Linked DNA regions of Homo sapiens. The protein of the gene in region 4 purifies or fractionates together with the protein of the main gene of each other region. This does not show direct contact. Each region holds a gene or a part of one and is shown on either strand. Other genes may lie near its edges. The genes, in order: DBT, SF3A3, SIRT5 and RBM5.

Region 1 (5,461 bases), on a different chromosome or scaffold from region 4:
AAAGTAAAAGTTTGGTTTACTGACAAGAACAATACATTTAAATTCTTATTTTTTTACTTTAAATTTCAAACTATTACTGATTTCTGAAGGCAAAGAAAAACTGAAGATCCCTTTCCTAAAACATAAATAATCTTAAATCATTCATCTTAACTTTAGAGATCACCCTAAATCGACTAGTCTTTATAATATCAACATTTTATTTTTACTAACATTAATATTCAGGAAATATAAAGCCTAACTAAAATAATTAAAATTGATAACTTAAAACCAGAAGACAATAAAAGAATTCTCTTTCCCAAACATTTCCATTTTGTTTGTCCTTGCTTTCTCCTTCAGCTCCCATAATCCTGACTCTTGGTCAACAATAAAATCAAAGGAGTGAATCAACCTCTGTTTCATCAGACATAAAACTTAGGGACAATAAAGGAAAGTTTTGAAGTATATAGATTCACCTTAATTTAAATAAAATTGTTCATATTTGTAAAACATTTGAAAGAAAATTAAACTACTAGAAGGTCTTACCTTCAACAACAACACAACTCGTATTGAACTATTCATGGGTCGGGGCAGCATAAACCACCACGCTTAACATTTATTGAGTGCCTCCCATGTGCTGAGTACTTTCTTTTCAGACAGGCCAGGCATGGTGGCTCTGGCCTGTAATCCCATCACTTTGGGAGGCTGAGGTGAGTGGATTGCTTGAGGTCAAGAGTTTGAGACCAGCCTGGTCAACATGACGAGACCCCCTCTCTACTAAAAATACAAAAATCAGCTGGACATGGTGGCACACGTAGTCCCAGCTACTTGGGAGGCTGAGGCACAAGAATCACTTGAACCTGGGAGGCGGAGGTTGCAATGAGCCAAGATCACACCACTGCACTTCAGCCTAGGTGACAGAGAGACCTTGTCTCCAAAAAAAAAAAAAAAAGAAAGAAAAAAAGAAAAATAGCCTTTTTAGACATCATCTTTTTTTCTTTTTTTTTTGAGATGGAGTTTCACTCTGTCACCCAGGCTGGAGTGCAGTGGCACGATCTCAGCTTACTGCAACCTCCGCCTCCCAGGTTCATGCGATTCTCGTGCCTCAGCCTCCCAAGTAGCTGGGACTACAGGCATGTGCCATCATGTCCAGCTAAACTTTTTTTGTGTGTATTTTAGTAGAGACGGGGTTTCATTATGTTGCCCAGGGTGCTCTCGACCTCCTCAGCTCAGGCAATCCGCCCACCTTGGCCTCTCAAAGTACTAGGATTACAGGCCATGAGCCATGGTGCCCGGCCCAGACATCATCTTTACATTTACAATTTCCCTGTGGAACATACACGTTAGCCCTCTTCAACACACGGGAAACTGATGGGAAAGGTGAAGTAATTTGTCCAAGGTCACACAGCAAATAAGTGGAACAATCGAGCTCTGAAGCTAAATAAATTTGATGTCAAAGACCCTAGAAATAGGAGAAATAATCCCTAATTTCAAAGAGTTTACAACGTATGTGAGAAAATAAACACACATACAAACACACTCAAGCATGGACATGCATGCTCTAACTTTTTGTAATAAGAGGCATAGGCTTCTTTAATATAGTCCATAGGTTTACGAAAAAAAAAAAAAAGAGACATAGGCAGTACGTGATAAAGGAGTTTAAGCAGGCCGGGCACAGTGGTTCATAGCTGTAATCTCATTGCACTCCAGCCTAGGCAACAAGAGCAAAATTCTATCTCAAAAAAAAAAAAAAAAAAAAAGGAGTTTAAGTAGAGGGGTCTGGTGGGCTTTTTTTTCACGTTAGTGTGACCTGGGAAGGCTTCTTGGAGGAAGATTTAAGCTGCACTGTGCATAATAAGCATACATAATAAAAGAGCAGAAGGGCACTTTTAAGGCAGAGGAAACAGCATAAATAAACTACAGCAGAAATTGACTTAGCATATCTGCTGGGACATTGAGCGGCTTGATTTGGCTTGACCAAAGGTATAAAAGAGAGCAATGGAAACAGCTCAAGGAGGAAATGGTTGATGACTATAATGTCAGTATAAGGAGTTTGAACTCATACATTATGGGTTATTGAAGAAAAAGGATTAGGAAATTAGTAGTGGTTTATTGAATAGATTATAACAGATAAAATCTGGAGAGAAAGGGAGAAGTCAAGAAACTATTACATACCAAAATTATCAAAAAAGGATTTTTTTAAAAAAATAACTATTACCGTATTCCTCTCTTATCTCCTTATGTGCAGTGGACACGTTCAAGATCCCCCGGTGGGTGCCTAAAACCATGGACAGTACTGAATCCTACATATTCTACATATACCGTGTTTTTCCTATATATACATACCTATGATAAAGTTTAATTTATAAATCAGACACAGTAAGACAGTAATAATAATAACTGATAATAAAATAGAAAAATTATAATAATATACTGTAATAAAGGTTTTGTGAATGTGGTCTCTCTCTCAAAATATCTTACTGTACTGTGCTCACCTATTTTCAGACTACAGTAGATCATGGCTAACTGAGACCACAGATAAGAAGGGGAGAGTACTGTATAGTATTTGAGACACAAAGCAACAGGCTCCTGACTGAGGTAATTAATAGTAGAAAAAGAAAAAAAGCAACAAAAGTACCATAGGCAGTATATGATTAATATAATAGTAATTGAATGGCTCTGAGGAGAAGGCTAAAAACACTGTGAAGTTGCTGAATAGATGGATTAACAGGCAACAGGAAAGAGGAGAAGAAATAATTTTTCAAGCTAGAATTCTAAATTTTTTTTCTAGAAACAGACTATTAGACTAGTAAATTATATTTTTTAATTTTCTTCAAAGACAGGGTTGGCTGGGTGCAGTGGCTCACACCTGTAATCCCATCTCAAATAATAATAATAATAATAAAATAAAGACAGGGTCTCACTTTTTTGCCCAGGATGGTCTTAAACTCCTGGGCTGAAGCAATCCTCCTGTCTCAGTCTCCCAGAATGCTAGGATTACAGGTGTGAGCCACCACACCCAGCTAGACTAGTAAATTAAGCATAAGGCTTTAAACCTCCAATTTTAAAAAGGCATGCTTATGGAATTATCAGTTTTATATATTTTATATTTGAAGCAATTCTAAATTCATCTATGAACAATACTAAAGACACCTAGTTCTATGGGGACCATCTGTACCAATTTGCCTGAGGTGACACCCAATTCACCTCTAGTGATTCAAGGCAATTATTAATAACACCATTTTCATTCTCAAATACATCCTGGTTGAACAACTATACGTGTAGTCTAAGTCTTAATGCAATTATTTGACTAAAATAGGTCTTTCCTTGATTTTAAAAATAATTCAGCCAGGTGCAGTGACTCATGCCTGTAATCCCAACATTTTGGGAGTCCAAAGCAGAAGGATCACTGGAGCCCAGGAGTTCAAGACCATACTGGGCAATGCATTGAGACTTTGTCTACTAAAAATCAAAATAATTAGTTGGCTGTGGTGGTGAATGCCTGTAGTCCCAGCTACTTGGGAGGCTGAGGAAGGAGGACCACTTGAGCCCAGGAGGTCAAGACTGCAGTGAGCCAAGATCATGCCACCACACTCCAGCCTGGGCAACAGAGCAAGAACTTGTCTCAAAAATAATAATAAATAAAATAAAAAATTAGGCCAGGTGCAGTGGCTCATGCCTGTAATCCCAGCACTTTGGGAGACTGAGGCAGGTGGATCACGAGGTCAAGAGATCAAGACCATCCTGGCCAACACAGCGAAACCCCGTCTCTATTAAAAATACAAAAATTAGCTGGGCATGGTGGCGCGTGCCTGCCCAGTTACTTGGGAGGCTGAGGCAGGAGAATCGCTTGAACCCGGGAGGCGGAGGTTGCAGTGAGCTGAGATTGCACCACTGCACTCCAGCCTGGTGACAGAGTGAGACGCCGTCTCAAAAAAAATAAAAATAAAAAATTAATAATTCAATATCACAACCAGGACAGAAGAACATAAAGGGAAATGAAACTGTTCACCAAAGTAGCGTATTAAGGAAATATTTAATAATAATTCAATAGGCAGCTGTTGAGCACTCCTAAAGTCAGACATTGTACTGGACTTGGAAATGCAAAGCTAAATAAGATGCAATATATAGTTCCTGAATTCAAATTGCTTACACTTTACTACAGGAAGACAGACACAACAGAAAAATTCCAAATGGCATGATTAATCAAGAGTCAAATGCATTATGTCCTAGGGAAATGTAAAACACAACATTATAAGGCTATTTTAATAATTTACTACGGGGGTAAGAACTGTTTTTGCTTACAACTTTTTAGAAGAGTTTACAAACCTGACTTTTTTTTTTACTGAGTCATTTAAAAAATATTTATGCACACCTACAATGTGCCAGGCACTTGGGATTATACAGAGAACAAAACAGATGCAATTTCTTCCCTTATAGAATGCACAGTACAGTGAAAGGTAAAGACAAGTAAACCGGTGATTATAACACGTGCTATAATGAAGGAAATAGAGTGTGTTAAGGGAACCTAGCTGGAGAAAGTTATGTTGAAGTAAGACCTGACGGATGAGTAGGTGTAACCCCGGGGATGAGGTATGTTGCAGATAAGGCCACAGTGGAGTAAGGCAAGAGTCTTTAAAGCAGAGGAAATACATGTGCAAAGGTCTGGAGTTGAGACAGAAAGCACAGTGTGTGTGCAAATAACTCAAGTTGTTCAACAGACTTCTAGTGTAGTTTAGTGTGGAATAAGGGTGGGGAAGTGTCAGAGTTGGGGTTGGGATGGGTAGGTTTTGGTAAGGAATGAGATCTAAGAGACTGGAAAGGTCCAGATCATAAATTGCCTCATAGTCATTTGAATTTTGGACATTTTGCTGAAGGCAGTTTTAAACAAGAAAATGATATTATCAAATGTCTCTTACTTTATAAGATCACTCTGGCTACACTATGGAGAATGGGTTGGAAAAACTACAAGACCACTGGAGGCATATAATCCAGTTAAGAAGGGCCAAGACACCTCCAGTTGAGGGCAGGGTGGAAAAATCATGACTAGATTTCTTCAGAGAGAATTACAGGCTCAAATCAAGAGAAACTGGGCCAGGGGCAGTGGCTTACGCCTGTAATCCCAGCACTTTGGGAGGCCAAGGCAGGAGGATCACCTGAGGTCAGGAATTCAAGACCAGCCTGGCCAACATGGCAAAACCCCGTCTCTACTAAAAATACAAAAATTAGCCAGGCATGGTGGTTCGCGCCTGTAGTGCCAGCTACTTGGGAGGCTGAGGCAGGAAAATCACTTGAACCCAGGAGGTGGAGGTTGCAGTAAGCCGAGATTGCACCACTGCACTCCAGCCTGGGCAACAGATCAAGACTCTTCTCAAAAAAAAAAAAAAAAAAAATTAAGAGAAACTGGTTTGAGGGTTCAGTTCTAGAGGCTGGAGAGTCTGACCTGCTTTGAAGCTTTACGGCAGACACTGTGAGAAGACTAAAG
Region 2 (5,461 bases), on a different chromosome or scaffold from region 4:
ACTCCACCTAAAGGTAGCATTCCTTTTGTGATTCATGTTTGTAAACAGCTGGCTGTGACTGACAAAAGGGTGGTATTTCAAAGCAGCACTGCATTGTTTGCCTCACTGGGTTGGCTTGTAAACCTAGATTCTAGACCCAGTAGTCTTATACATAAAACCTCTGGGTCAAGATCACAGAAAAACATCACAACTCTCACTACATCTCCCATATTGCAGGAGAACTTACCAAAGCCCCAGCAACTCCAAACACCTGCATGAATAGGGGTTACTAATGGCAGGTCAGCATCATCTTTGTAGGTAAAGGAGAAGACTTTTATTAGGCACAATGATGTGGTGAGGAGAGAGCAGGGAGATTATACACTGACATGATGGCAGTTTTAACTAAGGGATGGTAAATGGCATGGGCTTTATCCTGGATGCCAACTCCAATCATTGTAGGAGGTGCTGAGAAGGATTCAGAACTCACTCATGGGCTCAGCAAAAAAGACCCATTATCAATTAGTAATATGTATGACTCAGAGAGGGGGAGAGGAGTTCATATAAATTTGTCATCCTTGGTCTAGCATAAATGTTTTCCTTTCTGTAAAATTTCCTTCCAAAATCTAAGAACTCTAAGTAGAGCCCACTTAGAGGTGAGCCCACTTACAGCAGTATCATCCGGACAATACCCTGTCTCAAGAATGGCTTGATAAATATCAGCCCCTTCATTTTTTATTTTCTCAAGAGGCAAAGATCCATTTAAGATCTGAAAGAGATCAGTCAGCCCTATTTTTTATCTTGAGTATTAGCAATGGGGTAGAGAAATAACCAAGAAGTCAGAAATTGGTCTAAAATGCTAGCAGAAAGACAAAAACAGAGAAGTTTAAGAGCAGGCAAGAGAAAACCAAATAAGGTTCAAAGAGTGGTGCGGTAGAATTCCTCCAGAAACTATCTCAGGTATTTAAGACTAACATTGGTGCCAAAAGTCAAATGCCATGGGCTTGATTTTAAAACCATCCTTCTCTGATTCCCTTCAGCTCTGGACACCAGTGGTCCACATAGGCTGCTCCTACTCTTTTCTCTAAAAGTCTCATGTTTTTACTTCAATTCCCAGGAAAAATGGCTCTGAATTCCTTACAGCAAAGTGTCGCTGGAAGGCTTTGGGCCCTCGGTAGGTGTAGTTTCCACAAATCTCACAGTTGTAGTTGATATTTAGGCCATGAAGCTTATACAGCCAGTAGGGAATAGGCTAAAAAAGAAAAAAACAAAACAAAACCAAGAAGTGTTAGCCTACTAAACTCTGTATCTGTTTCCAAAATGGGGAATGGGGAGAAAGTGGTAGTGCTGAGACTTACTTTGCCATCCCAGCCAAGTGGCAGGTTTTTGGGGTTGTAAATGATCTCGTTCTCTTCATCTTCACTCTCACTCTCACTGATCTGCTCTTCTTCCTCTTCTTCTCGCTCTTCTCCTGTCCTGGCTTGCTTGCGCTGTACATTTTCATGAGTGAGATGTCGCTGTTCCTAAAGCAGGTCCATAAATGAAAAGTCAGAAAAAAGTAGTGCAGAATAAGAAGGGAAATTTCCTGTTTTCCTGTAACTTTTGCTGACCCCTTACTTCCAAGGATAAGGTTCTTTCTTACAGAATAAAGGAAAATCTTGCCTTCATATCAGAACTCCTTATCAGCAGGCTCTACCTGATCCCAAAGAAAAGAGTCAAAGGTTTTACATCACTTGCCTAATTACTCATCTGAGGCTATTATAGAACAACAGAAAACAGTCTCATCTATTCTGACTCTAAAATATTTCCTGGCTGGGTGTGGTGGCTCACGCCTGTAATCCCATCACTTTTGGAGGCTGGGGTGGGAGAATCACTTGAGGCCAGGAGTTTGACATCAGCCTGGGCAACACAATGGGATCTCATCTCTACAAAACATTTACAAATTGGCTAGGCATGGAGGTGTGCACCTGTGATCCCAGCTCTTTAGGAGGCTGAGTTAGGAGGACTGCTTGAGCCCAGGAGTTTGAGGATGCAGTGAGCTCTGATCCCGCCACTGCACTCCAGCCTGGGCGACAGAGTGAGACTCCTTCTCAAAAAAAAAAAAAAAAAATATGCACACAATACAGGAGCACCCAGATTCATAAAGCAAGTCCTCAGAGACCTACAAAGAGACTTAGACTCCCACACAATAATAATGGGAAACTTTAACACCCCACTGTCAACATTAGACAGATCAACGAGACAAAGTTAACAAGGATATCCAGGAATTGAACTCAGCTCTGCACCAAGCGGACCTAATAGACATCTACAGAACTCTCCACCCCAAATCAACAGAATATACATTCTTCTCAGCACCACATCACACTTATTCCAAAATTGACCACATAGTTGGAAGTAAAGCACTCCTCAGCAAATGTAAAAGAACAGAAATTATAACAAACTGTCTCTCAGACGACAGTGCAGTCAAACTAGAACTCAGGATTAAGAAACTCACTCAAAACCGCTCAACTACATGGAAACTGAACAACCTGCTCCTGAATGACTACTGGATAAATAACGAAATGAAGGCAGAAATAAAGTGTTCTTGGAAACCAATGAGCACAAAGACACAACATACCAGAATCTCTGGGACGCATTTAAAGCAGCGTGTAAAGGGAAATTTATAGCACTAAATGTCCACAAAAGAAAGCAGGAAAGATCTAAAACTGACACCCTAACATCACAATTAAAAGAACTAGAGAAGCAAGAGCAAACACATTCAAAAGCTAGCAGAAGGCAAGAAATAATTAAGATCAGAGGAGAAGTGAAGGAGACAGACACACAAAAAAACCCTTCAAAAAAAATCAATGAATCCAGGAGCTGGTTTTTTGAAAAGATCAACAAAATTGATAAGACCGCTAGCAAGACTAATAAAGAAGAGAGAAGAATCAAACAGACGCAATAAAAAACGAAAAAGGAGATATCAACACCGATCCCACAGAAATACAAACTACCATCAGAGAATACTATAAACACCTCTACACAAACAAACTAGAAAATCTAGAAGAAATGGATAAATTCCTGGACACATACACCCTCCCAAGACTAAACCAGGAAGAAGTTGAATCCCTGAATAGACCAATAACAGGTTCTGAAACTGAGGCAATAATTAATAGCCTACCAACCAAAAAAAAGTCCAGGACCAGACGGATTCACAGCCGAGTTCTACCAGAGGTACAAAAAGAGCTGGTACCATTCCTTCTGAAACTATTCTAATCAATAGGAAAAGAGGGAATCCTCCCTAACTCATTTTATGAGGCCAACATCATCCTGATACCAAAGCCTGGCAGAGACCACAACAAAAAAAAGAGAATTTTAGACAATATCCCTGATGAACATCGATCCAAAAATCCTCAATAAAATACTGGCAAACTGAATCCAGCAGCACATCAAAAACTTATCCACCATGATCAAGTTGGCTTCATCCCTGTGATGCAAGGCTGGTTCAACATACGCAAATCAATAAACGTAATCCATCATATAAACAGAACCAAAGACAAAAACCACATGATTATCTCAATAGATGCAGAAAAGGCCTTTGACAAAATTCAACAGCCCTTCATGCTAAAAACTCTCAATAAACTAGGTATTAATAGGATGTTTCTCAAAATAATAAGAGCCATTTATGACAAACCCACAGCCAATATCATACTGAATGGGCAAAAACTGGAAGCATTCCCTTTGAAAACTGGCACAAGACAGGGATGCCCTTTCTCACCACTCCAATTCAACATAGTGTTGGAAGTTCCGGCCAGGGCAATCAGGCAGGAGAAAGAAATAAAGGGTATTCAATTAGGAAAAAAGGAAGTCAAATTGTCCCTGTTTGCAGATGACATGATTGTACATTTAGAAAACTCCATTGTCTCAGCCCAAAATCTCCTTAAGCTGATAAGCAACTTCAGCAAAGTCTCAGGATACAAAATCATGTGCAAAAATCACAAGCATTCTTATACACCAATAACAGATAAACGGAGAGCCAAATCATGAGTGAACTCCCCTTCACAATTCCTTCAAAGAGAATAAAATACCTAGGAATCCAGCTTACAAGGGATGTGAAGGACCTCTTCAAGGAGAACTACAAACCACTGCTCAACGAAATGAAAGAGGACACAAAGAAATGGAAGAACATTCCATGCTCATGGATAGGAAGAATCAATATTGTGAAAATGGCCATACTGCCCAAGGTAATTTATAGACTCAATGCCATCCCCATCAAGCTACCAATGACTTCACAAGCTTACCAATTTCTTCACAGAATTGGAAAAAACTACTTGAAAGTTCACATGGAACCAAAAAAGAGCCTGCCTTGCCAAGACAATCCTAAGCCAAAAGAACAAAGCTGGAGGCATCACGCTATCTGACTTCAAACTATACTACAAGGCTACAGTAACCAAAACAGCATGGTACTGGTATCAAAACAGAGATATAGACCAATGGAACAGAACGGAGTCCTTGGAAATAGTATGACACATCTACAACCATCTGATCTTTGACAAACCTGACAAAAACAAGAAATGGGGAAAGGATTCCCTATTTAATAAATGGTGCTGGGAAAACTGGCTAGACATATGTAGAAAGCTGAAACTGGATTCCTTCCTTACACCCTATACAAAAATTAATTCAAGATGGATTAAAGACTTAAATGTGGGCCGGGTGCGGTGGCTCACGCCTGTAATCCCAGCACTTTGGGAGGCCAAGGTGGGTGGATCACCTGAGGTCGGGAGTTCGAGATCAGCCTGGCTAACATGGTGAAACCCTGTCTCACTAAATACACAAAATTAACTGGGCATGGTGGCACATGCTTGTAGTCCCAGCTACTCGGGAGGCTGAGGCAGGAGAATCGCTTGGAACCAGGAGGTGGAGGTTGCAGTGAGCTGGGATCATGCCACTACACTCCAGCCTGGGCGACAGAGTGAGACTCTGTCTCCAACAAAAAAAAGAAAAAGAAAAAGAAAAAAAGACTTAAATGTTAAACCTAAAACCATAAAAACCCTAGAAGAAAACCTAGGCAATACCATTCAGGCCATAGGCATGGGCGAGGACTTCATGACTAAAACACCAAAAGCAATGGCAAAAAAAAGCCAAAACTGACAAATCGGATGTAATTACACTAAAGAGCTTCTGCACAGCAAAAGAAACTACCATCAGAGTGAACAGGCAACCTACAGAATGGGAGAAAATGTTTACAATTTACCCATCTGACAAAGGGCTAATATCCAGAATCTACAAAGAACTACAAAGAATCTACAAAGAGAAATGCAAATCAAAACCACAATGAGATACCATCTCACACCAGTTAGAATGGCGATGATTAAAAAGTCAGGAAACAACAGGTGCTGGAGAGGATGTGGAGAAACAGGAACGCTTTTACACTGTTGGTGGGACTGTAAACTAGTTCAACCATTGTGGAAGACAGTGTGGCGATTCCTCAAGGATCTAGAACTAG
Region 3 (5,461 bases), on a different chromosome or scaffold from region 4:
TATCGCAAGGACAGAAAACCAAACACCACACGTTCTCACTCATAAGTGGGAGTTGAACAATGAGAACACATGGGTACAGGGCGGGTAACATCACACACTGGGGCCTGTCGGGGGGTGGTGGGCTTGGGGAGGGATAGCATCAGGAGAAATACCTAATGTAAATGATGAGTTGATGGGTGCAGCAAACCAACATGGCACATGTATACCTATGTAACAAACCTGCACGTTGTGCACATGTACCCTAGAACTTAAATTATAATAAAAAATAAATAAATAAATAATTTAAAAAATAAAAAAGTAAAAGAAATAACAAAAGACGGTCACAACACGCCATTCTCGTCAGGTTGCAACCAACCCAACTACCCCACCAATCACACTAAAGCTCTACCTGAACTCACATCCCTTCCAGAGATAGGCTGCTTGTTTTTGTCAGGTTTGTCAAAGATCAGATGGTTGTAGATGTGTAGTGTTATTTCTGAGGCCTCTGTTCTGTTCCACCGTGACCGTCTTAATTTCTCTCAGCCTTGTGCTGCCAAAACATGAATGGAGCCAGAGAGGAAAAAGCCTACTCTTCTTCTGAGTTCACTATAGACTAAGGGCCCAGACAGGTTAATTTGTAGGTTTTTGCCAGGTAGAGCTGCAAAGTATTTCTGTCCAGGAGAAAATTTAACCTCATACTGCCCTATAGGACAATCACCAGTTTTCCTCCCCTGCAGAGAGATAAGGATTTTATAGTACAAAACATGTGTAAAAAGCTTAAATGCAAATATTCTGGCAGAAGCAACAAAATGTCCTAGATGGACTTGAGTATTAAGGAGATAGGCTCTGAAGGTGCCCTAGAAGGGATTACCTAAAAGAGAAGAGGACAGGTGGGCGCGGTGGCTCATGCCTGTAATCCCAGCACTTTGGGAGGCTGAGGCAGGCAAATTACGAGATCAAGAGATCGAGACCATCCTGGCCAACATGGCGAAACCCCATCTCTATTAAAAATACAAAAATTAGCTGGTTGTGGTGGCATGTGCCTGCAGTCCCAGCTCCTCGGGAGGCTGAGGCAAGAGAACTGCTTGAACCCAGGAGGCGGAGGTTGCGGTGAGCCGAGGTCGCACCACCGCACTCCAGCCTGGCGACAGAGCAAGACTCCGTCTCAAAAAAAAAAAGAGAAGATGACAGAGTGGCTTTCTCCAAAACCTTGCCCAATACCTAATTTGACAGAGACATTCCTCTCGAAGTGTAGGACTTTCAGGTACTTCACATTTGGCTGCAGGTGAGGCAATGGGTAAAATGACTTACTTGAACTTGGCCGAGCCATTTTCAGGCAAATCTGGTTTCGTGTGGACGCTGGAGGCTTCAGGCCACAATATAGCTGGGAAATCAATCGACTTGGGACAATCTGGAGAGGTCGCATCAGGGTTTGTCTGTAGTTCTAATGCTTGAGGCGGGCTTTAGAAAAATCACAAAAACAAATAGTGTAGAAACAATCAGCAAATATTTTTATATATGGAAATATGTATAAATATTTATATTTTATATATTACAGAAACGCATCATGTATATTATATTATACCCACACGCACACATACACGAATGTCCTTTAAAAAATCTTTAGTAACAGATCATCCTCTGAACTGGCTGTTTTCCGTTTGTGTTCTCAAGTGCTCCTAGAGGTGCAGAGGTGCCTTGGAGCAGTGCTTCTCAAAGCGTGTTCCCTAGACCAGCAGCGTCGCCATCACCTGAAATCTTGTTAGAAATGCAGCCTCTGGTTCCACCTCAGAGCTGCTGAATCAGAAACTCTGGGGGTGGACCCCATCATCTATTTCCAGGTGATTCTAGTAACTACTCAAGTTTGAGGACCACTAAAATGCACAAGAAAGGGTTAAATATGAGAATTCATTTGAAAACTTGCTGCTTTTCAAAAGGTATGAAGCCAGGTGCAGTGGCTCACGCCTATAATCCCACCACTTTGGGAGGCCGAGATGGGTGGATCACCTGAGGTCAGGAGTTTGAGACCAGCCTGACCAACATGGTGAAACCCTGTCTCTACTAAATACAAAAAATTAGCTGGGAGTGGTGGTGCATGCCTGTAATCCCAGCTACTCAGGAAACTGAGGCAGGAGAACTACTTGAACCCCGGAGGCAGAGGTTGCAGTGAGCCGAGATTGTACCATTGCACTCCAGCGTGGGCAACAAGAGGAAAACTCCATCTCAAAAAAAAAAAAAAAAAAAAAAGAACAAAGAAGAAAAAAAAGAAGGTATGAAAACCACCACTAGTCTCTCAACTTGCGGTCAAAGTACAGTTTCTTTCTTTTATTTCAGACAGGGTCTCACTCTGTCACCCAGGCTGGAGTGCAGTGGCGTGATCACGGCCCACTACAGCCTTGACTTCCTGGGCTCCAGCGATCCTCCCACCCCATCCTCCCCAGTAGCTGGGACTACAGGCACGCGCCACCATGCCCGGCTAATTTTTGTATTTTTGGTAGAGACAGGGTTTCACCATGTTGGCCAGGCTGGTCTTGATCTCCTGAGCTCAAGCCATCCACCCACCTAGGCCTCCCGAAGTGCTGGGATTACAAGCATGAGCCACCATGCCCAGCCCAAAGTAGTTTCTGTGAGAATGTAATTTCTAACTGAGAACTAAATTCTGAAGGAAAGAAGTGTACTGTGACAATAGTATTAAGATAACATCGTGTCACAGAAACTCGTGGATCTTAAGGCACATTCAGTAAATCTTTGTCTATACCTGAGGAATTTTATAAAAAGAAAACAAACACAGAGAAAGACAACATTTGGAACAATGACACTGATTGTCCAACAAAACTGTGGGGGCAGAAAATATAACGGTGGTTGCCAGAAAGGGGAGGAGTGATTAAAAAGGGGCATGCGGGAATTTTTTTTTTTTTTTTTTTTGGTGGGAGGCAATGGTATTGTTATATATCTCGATTGTGGTAGTAGTTACATGACTGTATCTGTCAAAACTCATAAAACTCAATACTAACAAAGGGTTAATTTTATTAGACACATATTTTACTTAAAAATAATGAGTATAGAGCTTCAGTTTTACAAGATGAAATGAGTTCAGGGGATTAGCTACACAACAATGCGAATAGACTGAACTGTACCCTTAATAATGGTTAGAATGCTAAATTTTGTTACATGTGTTTTACCACAATTGTATTTTGTAAGAGAAAGGCAAGGGGATAAAAGAATATACCTTAACTTTCTTGCATTTGCTATAAAAACAAAAAAAGAATTCACAAGAAATTAGTAAAAAGAATTGAGTATAGGGTGGGAAACGCTATGTAAGGAGATTAGAGCTGAGCAAGGATTTTCCATATGTGTTTATATATTGTTTGGATTATCAATGCCTTCCAGTCCAAGGAACACACTTGTACTCGAGCAAGTTGCGAGAGATAGAACACGCCATGAAGAACTGCAGCATCTGTTAGGAACCTGGAATGGACTGATTAGAGGATTTGTGCTTGTGTTAGATCATGTTGGGGAGAGGTTCATGGAAGTGGGGCTTTGTTCTGGATTTGATGCTGTTAATGGATCTTATCTAAAAGGTGGAAGGAATGAAGAGAGGCTAGAGCTGTGAGTGGCCAAGCAGGAGTCCCTCATGTTAGCGGCATGGGAGGATGTTTGGTCATCTTTGTGGCTTCAACAATGTTCCTGTTTCGGTCCCAGTTCAGACGTGATTACTGAGTGGCCTTGTTCTTGTCCTGACCCATTGTGGTCACAGAGTGGCCCTGTCTGATATCGGTGCTCTGTGACGTGGTTTATGTTCAATAGAACACCAAGGCCTATCAGATAGTGCCAGGCTCAAGACTAGAAGCAAACCAAATGTCCATCAATTTATAAATGGGTAAACAAATTGTGGTTTATCCATACCATGAAGACTCTTCAGCAATAAGAACAAACTACTAATACCTTCAACAGCATGAATGAATCTTTAAAAGTGTTATCCAATAATAACTCTATAGTAGAAAAGCTGGCAGCTACCACCTTAACCAAGTGATCAAAGTTAACATCACCAGTAATAAGACATGGCGACTCCACCTACCTCCTCATATGATGCAATGAGAAGGGCAAAGCATCACTTGTGTGGCATTCATGACTGCAATTTAGTTATGAGAAAATGCCAAACTCAAGCTGAGGGGCGTTCTACACACTCTACAGCAAAACTGGCCAATACTCTTCAGAAAAGTATCAAAGTTTTGAAAGATAAGAACTGGAGAAACTGTCCCAGGTCCTAATGAGACATGACAAGTAAATGCTACGTGGGATCCTGGGCTGGATTCAAGACCTGAAAAGGGACATTAGTAGGACAAATGGCAAAATTTGAATGAAGCCTGTAAATTAGTTACTAGTACTGTATATGTAAATGTCTAGGTGTAGTACTTGTCCTGGTTTAGATCATTGCACTCTAGTTAGGTAAGATGTGAACATTAGAGGAAATTGGGTAAATGGTATAATGAGAACTCTGTGTACTATTTTTGCAACATTTCTGTAAGCCTAAAATTATTTCAAAATAAAATTGCTTCACAACAAGAAAAAAAAGGGCCAGCCATGGTGGCACACACCTGTAATCCCAGGACTTTGGGAGGCTGAGGCAGGAGGATCACTTGAGCCCAGGAGTTCGAGACCAGCCTGGGCAACAAAGTGAGACCCCATCTCTACAAAAAAGTAGCTGGGCATGGCAGTGCATGCCTATGGTCCCAGCTACTCAGGAGGCTGAGGTAGGAGGATCACTTGAGCCCAGAAGGTTGAGGCTGCAGTGAGTCATGATTGTGCCACTGGACTCCCTGCCTGGGTGAGTGAGACCCTGTCAAAGAAAGGAGAGAAGGCCAGAGCAGGAGCGAGAGTGAGGGAGAAAGAGAGAAAGAGAAAAAGAGAGGAAGAAACAGAGGGAGGGAGAGGGAAAGAGAGACAGAGAAGCATTATGCTAAGTGAAAGAAGCCAGATACAAAAGGCTACATAGTTTTTGAGACCATTTATAAGACATTTTAAAAAGGCAAAACTGTTGGTACAGAAATCACACCAGTGGTTTCCAGGGACAGGGGTCGGGGGAGTAAGGGGGAGCAGAGAAATTTTTAGAGCAACGTAAAATTACATTATCTTTATTTTTGTGATTTTTTTCAACACTCATAGAACTGTATAATAAAAAGCGTGAATTTTACAGTGCGTAAGGAGTAATATGATAAACCTCACCTACAAATAAGCAAGCAAGTCAACACGTTTTCAATGTATCCTGTCTCTTCTGCAATCAAAAAGACTGTAGAAGAAGATTGACACTCAAAAAGAGAAGAGGTTAGAGAAACATGGTGTAGTGTCTCCAGAACAACCTCAGGGGACAAGGCTGTCTGGCTGCCTAAAGTTACTTCTGCAGGGAAGGCAGGCAGACTGGCTGCTAGAGGGAAGTGAACAGACTCATGGGCCCCAGCAGCCACTCTGGTGAGCAGCTCCC
Region 4 (5,461 bases):
GAGCCCTGTTGTCGGATCATAGTAATATCCTGAAGATTCATCATACTGGTAAGTGGACGTGTCAGGTACTGCTGCAAAAACAAAATCCAGCATACAGTCATTCCAGGTAAGAAATTGGCTTTATTTCAAATTCTAAGCCAGTGAGATGCAGCAGGCCTAATGTTTCTTCTCTGTCTCACATCCCCAAGTGTCCCTCTGACACCCGCAAAGGGAGAAGAACTCTCATTAAACAAAGACAACAACTAAGACCTTCCAACTGTCAACAGCCCCATGAGGTTTGGCTTACCATATTTGGTACCAGGAACTACACCAGTAGGGGAAGCGGCTGGGGCCTGTGTACTTGTGCTAGTGCTAGGCTGTGCTTCCTCAGTCTGGAAAGAACAGCAGCTTCAATATAATTTCAACTGTAAAGCCTTTTAAGAGAGCTAAATCACTGCAATCATCCAGGAGGAAGGGCTCCCCTGACAGACACACTGTAGCAATAATCTAAGGCAATCCCTCAGCAAAACACATGTTGACAACTTTTTTGCTTTCTTTTTCAAGAGGAGTCTTGCTCTGTTGCCCAAACTGGACTGCAGTGGCGCAATCTTGGCTCACTGCAACCTCCGTCTCCGGGGTTCAAGCAATTCTCCTGCCTCAGCCTCCCGAGTAGCTGGGATTACAGGCATGTGCCACCACGCCCGGCTAATTTTTGTATTTTTAGTAGAGACGGGGTTTCACCGTGTTAGCCAGGATGGTCTTGATCTCCTAACCTCGTGATCCACCCGCCTCGGCCTCCCAAAGTGCTGGGATTACAGGCGCGAGCCACCACACCCGGCCCCGGCGACAACTTTCTAAAGGTCAAGCATGCATAAAGTGTAAATACACAGTTGAAATTTTATATTTAAAATATACATGCACATATATATCATAAAATTAATATTTTAAAACAACAGAAAGAAATAAGGTTGAAGTGTGTATTACTCAATCCTGGCTCATACAACAGGAAAGGGTAATACTTGTATAGCAAAACAAAATTTCCCCATCAGCCACGAGTTTTGTATATAGGACAACAGGATTACCGGAGAGCCAGGTGGATTGGAGGTTTGATTATACAGCTGAGGACTCTGGGACACTACAGCCGCTGAGGTGGTGGTCACTGCTGTGCCTGATGATAAACACAAGTGTTAGGGAAAGCCAAGGCACTGAACGCCAACCCAAACATCTTTATTTGTAATGCCCAATCTAGCCTTCTTCTGTCATTGTATATGTCAGTTCTTCATAAGCTAACTTCCACTAAGTACCCTGGAATCTGTGACATTTTCATTTTCTTATAATTCTACTAGATGTGATATACAAAGTTAAGGATTCTGTATCATGGCTAAGAAAAAGAGAAGAGGCCGGGTGCAGTGGCTCAGGCCTGTAATCCCAGCACTTTGGAAGGAAAAGGCGAGCCGATCACGAGGTCAGGAGATTGAGACCATCCTGGCTAACACGGTGAAACCCCGTCTCTACTAAAAATACAAAAAATTAGCCGGGAGTGGTGGCAGGCACCTGTAGTTCCAGCTACTTGTGAGGCTAAGGCAGGAGAATGGCGTGAACCTGGGAGGCAGAGCTCACAGTGAACCGAGATAACGCCACCGCACTCCAGCCTGGGCAACAGAGCGAGACTCCGTCTCAAAAAAAAAAGAAGAGAAAAGGAAGAGAAGAAAGGATCTATATTTGCTCTGGGGTTGAGAAAGATTTAACTCACAAGGCTTTTTAAAGCCTGAAACAAAAATTAAAGCCAAGGCTTCTTAGAGTAGCTCTTCTGATTGATGTCTGAGCACCAGTCTCCAGGGCCACATCCTCTCTGCTCACCTGAACTTACGTGGGCACTCACGACTCCAAACACAGAGAGGGGAAATACAGAGTTGAATTCCAAGAATTAAACTCATCACAACATGGTCTCTAAGACCTTGTATTAACTCCTGGTGTACACAAATAACCGTATTCTTCCCCAGAACCTTGGGTACATGATGACAGCCCTGAATATGCCCCCTACATTCTTTTTTTTTTCTTTCTGAGACAGAATCTCACTCTGTCGCCCAGGCTGGAGTGCAGTGGCGCAATCTCAGCTCACTGCAATCTCTGCCGCTCGGGTTCAAGCAATTCTCCTGCCTCAGCCTCCTGAGTAGCTGGGATTACAGGCGCCTGCCACCGCACCTGGCTAATTTCTGTAGTTTTAGCTGAGATGGGGTTTCACCATGTTGGCCAGGCTGGTCTTGAACTCCTGACCTCGTGATCCACCTGCCTTGGCCTCCCAAAGTGCTGGGATTACAGGCGTGAGCCACCGTGCCCGGCCATGCCCCCTACAATCTTACAGAGAAATGGACTTGTAGCTTTTGGTCCAGTTAGGACATTTAATCATATTTCTTCAACTGTAAGTGCTTAAACAAAAGGTAAAAGGGAGATGAAGTTTACTACCTGATGCAGATGATGCATCAGATTCCAATCCTCCAGCTTGTTGTTGATAAAACTGCTGATAATCCTGTGAATACTGAAGAAAAGTCCACCATTAAAGCTGCTATTCTCAGACACACTCTGCAAGACTATAAGGTGGATGCTGCTAAAATCTACCTACCTGAGCATATTGGGCATAGCCATCTTGACCTGGTTGCAGATAACTGTAGTCAACACTGCCTCCTTCACCACTTTGAGACTACAAAACATCAAAATGAGACAAAGACAAACTTAGTAGGCATTAAGGAAAAAAATTCAGAAGTCCCTAAAAATGAGCTCATGATGCTGGGCGCTGTGGCTCACGGCTGTAATCCCAGCACTTTGGGAGGCTGACGTGGGTGGATCACCTGAGGTCAGGAGTTCAAGACCAGCCTGGCCAACGTGGTGAAATCCCATCTCTACTAAAATACAAAAATTAGCCAGGCGTGGTGGCAGGTACCTGTAATCCCAGCTACTCAAGAGGCTGAGACAGAAGAACCACTTGAACCTGGAAGGTGGAGCTTGCAGTGAGCCAAGATTGCACCATTGCACTCCAGCCCGGGTGACGAGAGTGATACTCTGTCTCAAAAAAAAAAAAAAAAAAAAAAAAAAAAAAAGAAAAGAAAAGAGCTCATACTGCGAGTACCACAGGAGAGGTCACGTCTGTGAATCTGGGCACCACCACCACACTACCTTGAGCAAAAAGATCCTCGATCTTACCTGGGTGGATGACCACTGAGCAGCAGCAATAGCCGTACTAGCTACAGAGAAAGCGCTGACGCGGTTACCATCTGAGAGGACCAAGTCTCTGAAACCACAAAGATCCAATCATGTGATTCTATCACAGTATTCCCACAATTAGTGCCCCTATACCACCAACTGATTCACTCCACCCTTTGTCAGTTCTCAAATGCCAGCAAGGCCACATTTCACAGGGGGAGGGCTCTTCATGGGGAAATTCCTCAGTAAGCAAGTGGCCCTGTAGTATCATTGTTCTACCTTGTAACCTGCCATCTAACGAAGAGTTTTTTGAATGTGCAATGATACTAAAAAAAGGGAAATTTACCGTGTTAGAGTTAAGCACTATATACATGAAATTATTAGCACGCTGTTCTGGAAGGAATGGGTTATTTCTGGATGGGTTAGCACTATACTGCTGCAGTTTGCAAAGCATGTGTTCTCAACCCATCTGCCATACTTGCCTTTCTCCTGATCTGAAACCATTTCAGGCAACTTCATCAACTGGTTACACAGGACAGTAGGGAATAATCACTAAAAGAAGACAAACGTGTCCCTCCTGGCCTTGGCAATCAGGGAGGATCACAGTGTCTCAACATACTTGGGGCACAGGCTTGGCGTTCAGTTAGCACACTGTACAAATGTGCATATGCAGTAGTTTGAAATAAGGACAATGAAGCCACTCACTTTCTGGCACTTTTTGCAAAATCAACCCCAATAGTTTTGCCATCAATTTTCAAAGGAGGATGGAGACTCTGTAATATCTGAAGCAGCTGAGAAGCATCCTGAAGGAGAATGTGAAGGAAAAAAACGTGTAATGCAATTAAAAATCTCTCCCTACCATCCACCCCATTCAAAGAAGTAGTTTTCTATTAAAAAATAAAAGGCAATTAATTCCTTATTGTGTTTGCAGATATGAAACCTCAAGAAAGGAATATCTCTCTTTCCTCTAAGATGTGAAGGTTTCCAGTATTACCAAAAGAGCAAATGCTAAACCAATCTAAAACAAAGTACATCTAGCACTTGGGAGGCTGAGATGAGCGGATCACTTGAAGTCAAGAGTTCGAGACCAGCCTGGCCAACATGGCAAAAACCTGTCTCTACTAAAAATACAAAAATTAGCTGGGCGTGGCTGGGCGCGGTGGCTCACGCCTGTAATCCCAGCACTTTGGGAGGCAGAGGTGGTGATCAAGACCATCCTGGCTAACACAGTGAAACCCCATCTCTACTAAAAATACAAAAAATTAGCTGAGCATGGTGGTGAGCGCCTGTAATCCCAGATACTCAGGAGGCTGAGGCGGGAGAATGGCGTGAACCCTGGGGAGATGGAGCTTGCAGTGAGCCGAGATCACACCACTGCACTCCATCCAGCCTGGGCGACAGAACGAGACTCCCTCTCAAAAAAAAAAAAAAAAAAAAAAAAAAAAAAAAAATAGCTGGGCGTGGTGGCGGGCACCTGTAATCCCAGCTACTCAGGAGGCTGAGGCAGGAGAATCGCTTGAACCCTGGAGGCAGAGGTTGCAGTGATCCGAGATGGTGCCACCGCACTCCAGCCTGGGCGACAGTGAGACTCCATCCCAAAAAAGAACAACAACAACAAAAAACAAAGTACCAAGGACTAAACTGTGGCTCAAAAAATTCTGCCAGTTGCCTATAGGTATACACATTATTTTTACTACTTACTGAAGTCATCAGTCCTGTAATTTAGCAGTGCAAAAACTGTCATTAGGGAGCCTTGCATCTTGGGCTTTAGGAGCCTCAGACAGTTTCAAAACTGGATGAACCACATTTGCCTCTTAAAGCTGTTTCTTTTAAAAAGGAAAGAATCGATGAGAACCTCACCATTGCAGAGGACAGCTGCACAAATGCGAAGCCTCTGTTCTGCTGGGTCTGTTTGTCTTTTATGAGGCGGATGTTATTGACAGCTAAAGACGCGTAAGGAGACAGTGCTGTCATGATGGAATCCACCACAGTGTGCGGAGCTATGTTCCGAAGAATGATCGCTAGGGGTAAATGAGACAAATGACATACACATGCATTCCCACCACCAATGTACCAAAGTTTTCCAAGATAGGGTCAAGTACATACAAATCCATTTGTGACATTCCTAGTGTATTTTCTACCCTGACATGGAGAAGATTCTAAAAATCCTGTCTTTTAAGGGACAACCCGAAGCTGCTGCTGCTCCTTACAAAAGGGTAGGAGAACAGAAATTTCCAACTGAGGTCAATTTTTTTTTTTTTTTGAGACGGAGTAGCTGGGA

The links.
Region 1: the proteins of RBM5 (region 4) and DBT purify together in Homo sapiens (affinity purification with mass spectrometry; one large-scale study listed by BioGRID and IntAct). This does not show direct contact.
Region 2: the proteins of RBM5 (region 4) and SF3A3 purify together in Homo sapiens (affinity purification with mass spectrometry; one large-scale study listed by BioGRID and IntAct). This does not show direct contact.
Region 3: the proteins of RBM5 (region 4) and SIRT5 purify together in Homo sapiens (affinity purification with mass spectrometry; one large-scale study listed by BioGRID and IntAct). This does not show direct contact.

What each region holds. Positions count from the first base shown.
Region 1 is NC_000001.11:100,242,349-100,247,809, forward strand, and holds part of DBT (lipoamide acyltransferase component of branched-chain alpha-keto acid dehydrogenase complex, mitochondrial isoform 1 precursor), read right to left. Parts: intron 2,255-5,461; exon of another isoform or gene 2,195-2,254; intron 1-2,194. UniProt on the Homo sapiens protein: The branched-chain alpha-keto dehydrogenase complex catalyzes the overall conversion of alpha-keto acids to acyl-CoA and CO(2).
Region 2 is NC_000001.11:37,968,237-37,973,697, forward strand, and holds part of SF3A3 (splicing factor 3A subunit 3), read right to left. Parts: intron 1,500-5,461; coding exon 1,335-1,499; intron 1,229-1,334; coding exon 1,118-1,228; intron 1-1,117. UniProt on the Homo sapiens protein: Component of the 17S U2 SnRNP complex of the spliceosome, a large ribonucleoprotein complex that removes introns from transcribed pre-mRNAs.
Region 3 is NC_000006.12:13,580,055-13,585,515, reverse strand, and holds part of SIRT5 (NAD-dependent protein deacylase sirtuin-5, mitochondrial), read right to left. Parts: intron 1,441-5,461; 5' UTR 1,406-1,440; coding exon 1,291-1,405; intron 530-1,290; exon of another isoform or gene 389-529; intron 1-388. UniProt on the Homo sapiens protein: NAD-dependent lysine demalonylase, desuccinylase and deglutarylase that specifically removes malonyl, succinyl and glutaryl groups on target proteins.
Region 4 is NC_000003.12:50,105,289-50,110,749, reverse strand, and holds part of RBM5 (RNA-binding protein 5), read right to left. Parts: intron 5,202-5,461; coding exon 5,041-5,201; intron 3,984-5,040; coding exon 3,886-3,983; intron 3,269-3,885; coding exon 3,181-3,268; intron 2,681-3,180; coding exon 2,603-2,680; intron 2,519-2,602; coding exon 2,446-2,518; intron 1,148-2,445; coding exon 1,062-1,147; intron 372-1,061; coding exon 287-371; intron 72-286; coding exon 1-71. UniProt on the Homo sapiens protein: Component of the spliceosome A complex. Binds to ssRNA containing the consensus sequence 5'-AGGUAA-3'. Regulates alternative splicing of a number of mRNAs.